2 linked regions of the Homo sapiens genome follow. The protein of the gene in region 2 interacts with the protein of the main gene of each other region in a biochemical or structural test. Each region holds a gene or a part of one and is shown on either strand. Other genes may lie near its edges.

Region 1 (3,800 bases), on a different chromosome or scaffold from region 2:
TTTTTTTTTTTTTTTTTAGATGGAGTCTCGCATCATTGCCCAGGCCGGAGTGCAGTGGCGCGATCTCGGTTCACTGCAACCTCCACCCCCGAGGTTCCAGTGATTCTCCTGCCCCAGCCTGGGTACCTGGATAGCCGTAATCCCAGCCGAGTAGCTGGGATTACAGGTGCCAGCCACCACACCTGGCTAATTTTTGTATTTTTAATAGAGATGGGGTTTCACCATGTTGGCCAGGCTGGTCTTGAACTCCAGACCTCAGGGATCCGCCCACCTCAGCCTCCCAAAGTGCTGGAATTATAGGCGTGAGCCACCGCGCCCAGCCTGCTGCCACTTTCTATTAATAAAATCCCAGCATTCTAATATTCTAACATTCCAACACTGAGTTCCAACATGCTGAGATACCAATATTCTGCTTTCTCCAACTCCAACATTTGTGGATGTGAATATTTCAAAACAGAATTCTACCACTGTGAGCCCAATATTCAAGGACTCCAATCTGCCAACACTGGTATCCACAATTGGCCAGTGGTGCAGGAATTCCACATGGGCCATCTTCCCATTTTGAATCCCCAAATTCTAGGATTCCAATGTTTCAGCTTTCCTTGAGTCCGACATTTTCCATTTCAGTAATTAACACCAAATTCTAGCATTCTAGAATCCCAGCATTCTAGAACCTCAACCTGCCAACAATTTAGGGATTCAAGATGGTGACCTTCCAACTTTGAATTCCAACAATCACAGGGTTCAACTTTCTAACATTCTGTGATTCCAACACTCCAGCAAGAAAGCAAGGCTGGGCGTGGTGGCTCACACCTGTAATCCCAGCACTTCGGGAGGCTGAGGCAGGCGGATCACGAGGTCAGGAGATCAAGACCATCCTGGCTAACATGGTGAAACCCAGTCTCTACTAAAGATACAAAAAATTAGGCCGGGCGCGTTGGCTCACGCCTGTAATCCCAGCACTTTGGGAGGCTGAGGTGGGTGTATCACGAGGTCAGGAGATGGAGACCATCCTGGCTAACACAGTGAAACCCCATCTCTACTAAAAATACAAAAAAATTAGCTGGGCGTGGTGGCACGTGCCTGTAGTCCTAGCTACTCGGGAGGCTGAGACAGGAGAATCGTGTGAACCCGGGAGGTGGAGCTTGCAGTGAATCAAGATAGCGCCACTGCACTCCAGCCCAGGTGACAGAGCGAGACTCTGTCTCAAAAAAAAAAAAAAAAAAAAAAAAAGGAACCTGATCCCAACATTACAAGACTCCCAGTTCTTTTTTTGTTTTTTGTGGCTGGGATTATAGGCGCCCACCACGCCTGGCTAATTTTTGGATTTTTAGTAGAGACGGGTTTCACCATGTTGGCCAGACAGGTCTCAAACTCCTCACTTCAGGTGATCCACCTGCCTCAGCCTCCCAAAGTGTTGGGATTACAGGCGTGAGCCACCGCACCTGGCACAAGACTCCTGGTTCTTACACCCAGACCTCATCCCCTGAGCCCTCCAAGCTAAAGGAGACAGATGCTCAGCCCAAGCACAGCAGCAGCCAGGTGTCCAACCTGGAGCACCTGGTCAGCAGATGGCAGTCATGCCCCCAGCCTGGAAGGCCTCCATCCAGGCTACAAGGCTCACCTGAAGCAATAGTTGGTGTCCAGGGCTCGGCGGTGCCGGGAGCTTTGCAGATGCTGGGCCCTCTCCAGCGGGGTGGCCATGAGAAGCAGGAAAGGCCGGTTCATGCCATGAATGGTGGCCAGGTCACCTCGGCGGCCGGTAGTGAACCCTGCTTTGGTGTGGGAGTCAGGGGATAGGGGACATACACACACACTCTCAGAGGGATAGATAAGTGGGGCGTGGGGCAGATGGGAACACACACACGCACACACGTCACAACTGGGCATGGCCGGGGAAGCAGGCCTCACCGTTGATGTCCACTTGCAGTGTGTTATCCCTGCTGTCACAGGAGCAGTGGGCGCTAAGGCGAAAGCCCTCAATTTCCCCTGTAGGAGTGGCGAGAGGGAAGCCAGTCTGAGAGTGCAGCTCACCCAGCCCCTGGAGGAAGAGGAAGGAAGGAGCAAACCCCAGGGGCTTCCTTCCTGCCTCCCCCACCCACCCCACTCTGCCCTCTCACTGCAGCTCTCTCTTTTTTTTTTTTTTTTTTTTTTTGAGACAAGGTCTCGCAGCCTCAATCTCCAAGGCCCAAGCAATCCTCCCATCTCAGCCTCCCGAGTAGCTGGGACCACAGGCGCGTGCTACCACGCATGGCTAATTTTTTTTTTTTTTTTGAGATGGAGTCTGGCTCTGTTGCCCAGGCTGGAGTTCAGTGGCGTGATATCAGCTCACTGCAACCTCCACCTCCCAGGTTCAAACGATTCTCCTGCCTCAGCCTCCCAAGTAGCTGGGATAACAGGCATGCGCCACCACACCCGGCTAATTTTTTGTATTTTTAGTAGAGATGGGGTTTCACCATGCTGGCCAGGCTGGTCTCAAACTCCTGACCTCAGGTGATCCGCCTGCCTTGGCATCCCAAAGTGCTGGGATTACAGGCTTGAGCCACTGCATCCGGCCTACACGGCTACTTTTTAAATTCTCTGTAGAGACAGAGGTCTCACTATGTTGCCCAGGCTGGGCTCAAGCAATCCTCCTGCCCTGGCCTCCCGAAGTGCTGGGATTACAGGCATGAGCCACTGCACCCAGCCAGCATCAATCTCTTGAATGAATGAGTGAATGATGTTTTCTAGGCTCCTACAATGTGCCGAAGCCTGTGCTGTGTGCTTGGGACTCAGCATTGACCAAGACAGATGAGCTCCTTCTAGGCCTTTGTCGAACAGCCCAGGACACTCCTCCCAGTGCCCACCTGCTCCCTAATCCCTATTTTTTCTTTTTCTTTTCTTTTTTTTTTTTGAGACGGAGTTTCACTGTTGTTGCCCAGGCTGGAGTGCAATGGCACGATCTTGGCTCACTGAAACCTCCACCTCCTGGGTTCAAGCAATTCTCCTGCCTCAGCCTCCCGAGTAGCTGGGATTACAGGCATGCATCACCACGCCGAGCTAATTATGTATTTTTAGTAGAGACGGGGTTTCTCCATGTTGGTCAGGCTGGTCTCGAACTCCCGATCTCAGGTGATCCACCCACCTCGGCCTCTCAAAGTGCTGGGATTACAGGCGTGAGCCACCATGCCAGGCCCCCTAATCCCTTTTTTTTCATGTGGCCAAACTACTATTTATCCTGTGAGTCTCCACACAATCACCCTCACCCAGCAAGCCCTCCTAGACTCCCCAGATGGGTCCAGGTGCCTTCTCTGGGCTCCCAACAGCACTTAGGGCGTTCCCCCATCCTGCATGCCTCCCTGTCCCAGCCTTGTCCTCCCTGCTGGTGCCTCCCCATCCCATTCTTGATCATTCTAGGTCATTCCTGCCTGGTGGGGCCTTGACAAGATCTCTTAGGTGTCCAGAAGTGACTGTGGGCCCCATGAGGGCAGAACTGAGGGCTGTCTTGGTTATCACTATGTCCCCCACACCACCCAGCACATGGCCAGGCACACAGCAGGAACCTGTGGGCAATTATTGAATAAAAGCATAAATGAGAGGGAGGTGAGGGAGAGAGATAGGGGCACCATGGGCCCTGCCAGAAACCAGACAGAGACAATCATCTCCTGGACAGATCAAATGAGTTAGTTAGGCTCTCCCTGGCCTCCAGGCCTTTGCACAGGCTGTTCCCTTTGCCTGGAATCTTTTTTTTTTTTTTTTTTTTGAGATGGGATCTCACTCTTTCATGTAGGCTGGATTGCAGTAGTGTGATTATGACTCAC
Region 2 (4,493 bases):
CAATCTCCTCATTCCAACCATGAAATCAAGAGAGAACCAGGGTTACCAGCCTGGCCCCTGGTTTCCCACGTCTCTCTTCTCCCTGGCCCAGTCTAGAAGCTTCTTGCAGGCAGGTACCACAGTTTGGTCAAGGTGCCATGCGTCCCAGGTCCTAGCCAGGCCCTGGGCTGCCGCTGGTGAACAGGAAGGGGGTCTGTGCCCTGCCATGCCCCCAGGTAGAGCTCCCCTGGGAGCATCCTCCCTGGCCTGGGACCTCCCAGACCCCACCCCCCGGTTGAGTGATGGCACTGCCAGGGGTTGAAGACCCTCAGCCCTCGACGTTGTCCTCTCTCCATTGGATGCCGCCTCTCTCTAGCCACCCCTCTCTCCCTCTCTGCCCCTTCGAGCTTTTTCTCTCAATATGCAATTTTCTCTTTTGGTCTTCCGCACTCTTGGCCCCCAGTTCTATTGCAGATCTGTTTCTCACTCCATCTAAACTCTTACCCCTGTGTCTCAGGAGCTGCTCTTGCTGAGGGAAGAAGGGGACACTACGGGACAGGGGGGCAGTGTCGTACTAAGGACCTGGGCTCTAGCCACTGGAGGAACTGGACTCATTTGGGCCCTCAGGAAGCGGCTGAGTCTTGGTGGGGTAACCCGGTTAGCCCCCGTAAGTGACCAGCACAGGGCTGAGCCCAGAGGAAGTGGCCACCCACAGAGTGGTTCTCATGTCCGAGGGGACCTGCAGGGATTGAGCAAGAAGACTGACTCGCTGGATCCTTCGTCTCTGAATCAGTTCAGGGCAGGCAAGCTGGGGAGCCCCCTGCCCCGTCCTGCCACCACCAGCCGGATCGGGCCCTCTTTTTAAGGGAAGAAAGTCTGGAGTGGAAGGGAGGGCACAGGGCGCCAGGAGCCTACATGAAGTCCTTCCAGAAATCCACAACAGCTACCTCTCTGATCCTGGAGAAACCACCTCCTTGCTTAGGCCCAAGCAGGTTCCTGGCAGGCTCAGGACCAAATTCCAGGGGCCACTCATGGGCCTAGCAGCCCAAGGCCGCCTCCCCCTCGTCTTTCTTCCATCTCTCTTTCCTCTGCCTGGCGAGATGCCAGCCAGCACCTCAGTGTCCCCATCTGGGCAGTGGAAAGTTTGACTCTCTGGGTCCTTGTTTGAGTGAGTGCGAGTGTGTCCGTTCCTTTGCTGTCTGCCCCAGGCGGGGGAGGGGGGGGGAGGTGGTGGGGGCGAGGGGGCGGGGGCTCAGCTAGTCCAGCCGTCTACAAGAAAATTGCTCCCTTTGAAGCTGCCAGGGGGGCCGGGAAGCCTGCCCCCTCCTGCTCGCCCGCCCTCTCCGCCCCACCAGCCCCCTCCCTCCTTTCCTCCCTCCCCGCCCTCTCCCCGCTGTCCCCTCCCCGTCGGCCCGCCTGCCCAGCCTTTAGCCTCCCGCCCGCCGCCTCTGTCTCCCTCTCTCCACAAACTGCCCAGGAGTGAGTAGCTGCTTTCGGTCCGCCGGACACACCGGACAGATAGACGTGCGGACGGCCCACCACCCCAGCCCGCCAACTAGTCAGCCTGCGCCTGGCGCCTCCCCTCTCCAGGTAGGGCTGGCTTCAAGCTGCCTCCTCAGCAACCCAGAGATGCCCCTGGCTCTGCTGCCTCCGCTGTCCCAAGCCCTGGTCCTGCTGTCCCCAGTGCCGCGAGGGTGTCCACAGATTTCCCCGGTGCTCTCTGTAGGCTGCTGATCCACGCCCCTTCATCGCCACCCTGCGGCCCCCTTGGTCCCTGTCAGGCTTCTGCCTCGTCTCGCCGCCCTCCAGGCACCTTTCCCTCACCCCTTCCTCTCCCTCTCCCTTCTGACCTTGCTCTGCTTCATCCACCTCTTGTCTCTCTGCCTCCCGCTCGGGGTCCGTCTTCTTGGCTACCACCCTAGAGCGTGGCTGGGTGACTGGTACCCCAGCTTTGCCAATGGCCCTGTTTCATCATTGCAAGTCCCAGGCGCATGCTCCACTCCCTCAGCCTCGCTCTGCCCAGGCGCCTCCTTGCTCCAGGGCTTGGCGCCTGGCCCGGGTTGGGTCGGATCGGGGAGGACCGCCCAGCGCCCACCGAGCTCAGCACCCAGGAGCAGTCCTCCGCTGCACTGCCTGAGGCCAGTCCTTGGCATGGGCTGAAAGACTTAGTTTCCCAGGCACACCCCAGGCACCCTGCCCAGATGTTCCTCGCTCGCTCACCCCCAGGTTAATGCTCTGCCTCTACATCCTCTGTGAGAAGTCTGGGTCCTGGGAGCCCTGGCTGCAAGGGCCCTGACTGGGGGTGCCTGGGTGGCTCAGCCCTGTCTGTTTCCAGGACCCCCTTGGACTGGGACTCAGAATGGGTGTGGAGGGGAAGGAGAGAAAATCAGGCAACTGTGCCATGCTCCCCAGGGCGGACCTGGCTTGGGGTCCCAGAGGGGCCTGCCAAGGGACCCAGGAGAGGGAGCGAGAGAGTGCCCTGGAAGGCCCACGGAGGGGAGCGCCCCCTCACTGCTCCATGGGCGGGGCTGGGTGCCTGAGCGCCTGCTGAGCAGAGCAGGGGGCCCAGGGATCTGCAGGGCACAGGGTACATCAGTCTCCAGTGGTCTGTCTTGGTGGGCAGGCCTCTCTCCTGCTGTCCTGGCTGCCAGACTGCTCAGGTCCCATCCTCAGGGGGTCCTGTTTCTGGGCCCTCGCCCCTCCCTGGCCTGCCAGCTCTCTGCCCTATAGCAACTAATTGGAACTGAGACAAGCTGGAGATGCTCAGCCCCCCTGCCCCCGTGCCAGAAAGGCTCCCGGGGACCAGCGCCCAGGGGTGCGGGTGAGCACCTCCTGGTGACACCCAGCCGCCGGTGCCAGCCGCACCCCAGGAGAGCTGGTGTATGAGCATGGATGTCTTGGTGCGGAGCATGCCCATGTATGGCCACTGTGGGCCAGCATGGTGAGCCTTTGAGGGCAAGCCCGTGTGGGTATATTGAAAGGAAGATGCAGGGCTGCCTCCAAGCCACCAGGGCTGGGCGGTGGGAGCAGGTTGCGAGCCAGGGAGCAGAGAGGGCTCCCATGGCAAGCTGGCCAGCTGTGGGTGGCAGCCCTGGCCTCCCTGGCCCACCTTCAAGCCCCAAGGACCCGTACGGCAGTGGGCATTAACCCTACCAACGCATAGATGGGGAGTCTGGGAAAGGAAGGGGGGTGTTTCCAAGGCAAGAATGAGTTTCCTGTCTTTAGCAACATTCCAGAGTCACTCAAACAAAGCTATAGCGTGTCCCTTCCAGTGACAGCGCCAAGTCCCCAGAGGAGGGGTTTGTAATGAGTTCACACTTGACAGTTAGCACTCAGAGCCTTCAGCAAGGGCTTCTGAGTCCTTGCCACCCCGTATAGAGGTGGGATGAGGACCTCCCCACCTGCCGTCTCCTGTGCTTCCCGGGCCCACCCCCCACCCCCCACCCCCCAGCATCTCCAGCCTGCCCGGGAGTCACATGTCCTCGGCCCACAGAATCCCCAGCACACGCCCCACCCACAGGCCTAGCCCCAGCCCTGGGGTCCCTGGCACCCCACCTGCCAGGGCCCCTCCCCTGCCTTGCTCACCCCCCAACACCCCTGCTTGTCGGAAATGTCTTCCCATGCCCACCACGACCCCCTCCCACTCATCTGTGGGCCGGAGAGCTTGGTCCCTGCCGCACGTTGCCCCCCTAGCATCCAGGCCCACCACCGAGCCCCCGACAGGCCTGGGAGCCCCACTGGTGGGTGGGGACCCACCAGCTGGGGGTCTTGCTCACACCGAGGGGCTGGGGGTGGCGGTGGCTTTCCCAGGGCACCCTGCCTTGGGCTGCAGGCCGCTGGGTGGGCACCGGCTCCCTCGGAAGGCAGCGCAACCCGGGATCCTGCCGGCCCTGGCCCCCACCCTGCCGACCGGGCCTGGGGCGATCAGTGCCCCAGCTCCTGTCCTCTTCTGCTCAGATGCTGGGTTGGGAGATCAGGGGCCACAGCTCGGCCACTCAGAGCCCTTTCCGCAAGTCTTAGAGGGACCAGCTGTGGGGTGTGTGCAGAGGGGCTGCGCTGTGGGGAGGGCGCATGGCTCAGTCCTCCTGGCCTGAGGCCCGCCTAGCCTAAGTGGCCTCCAGGACCCATGGCCAGGCCCTTCTGCAGCCTTCCAGAAAGAACCAGCTTCCCAGGGTTCCCTGGGGAAGGCCTGGGGCCACCTCCTCTGGAGGGGTGGGGCCTGTGCTTCATTCCTCCTTCCCCAGGTCCCCTTCCAGGCCAGAAGATCCCCTCCACCACTTGAATCCCACAGCCAGAAGCCCCTTCTGGGACTCTAGACTCCTGGGAACCATCCCAGCTGCCCCCTTCGCTGTTTCGCTGTTTGCCTTCTTCCCCTGCCCCGTCATGGCTCTAGGTCAGAGCAGCCTCTGGGGTGGCTATGGAGGGGCCACCAGCCTTGGCTCTTCCGAGGACTGCAGAACCCTCCCACTCCCAGCTTCCCACCTGCGCAGCTCTGATCCCAGCCAGCCCAAGGG

Evidence for each region.
Region 1: the proteins of BGN (region 2) and TGFB1 form a complex in vitro, tested with the Homo sapiens proteins (one study listed by BioGRID).

What each region holds. Positions count from the first base shown.
Region 1 is NC_000019.10:41,340,259-41,344,058, forward strand, and holds part of TGFB1 (transforming growth factor beta-1 proprotein preproprotein), read right to left. Parts: intron 1,990-3,800; coding exon 1,912-1,989; intron 1,776-1,911; coding exon of another isoform or gene 1,773-1,775; coding exon 1,625-1,772; intron 1-1,624. UniProt on the Homo sapiens protein: Transforming growth factor beta-1 proprotein: Precursor of the Latency-associated peptide (LAP) and Transforming growth factor beta-1 (TGF-beta-1) chains, which constitute the regulatory and active subunit of TGF-beta-1, respectively.
Region 2 is NC_000023.11:153,493,545-153,498,037, forward strand, and holds the start of BGN (biglycan preproprotein), read left to right. Parts: upstream 1-1,435; 5' UTR 1,436-1,569; intron 1,570-1,829; exon of another isoform or gene 1,830-1,921; intron 1,922-4,493. UniProt on the Homo sapiens protein: May be involved in collagen fiber assembly.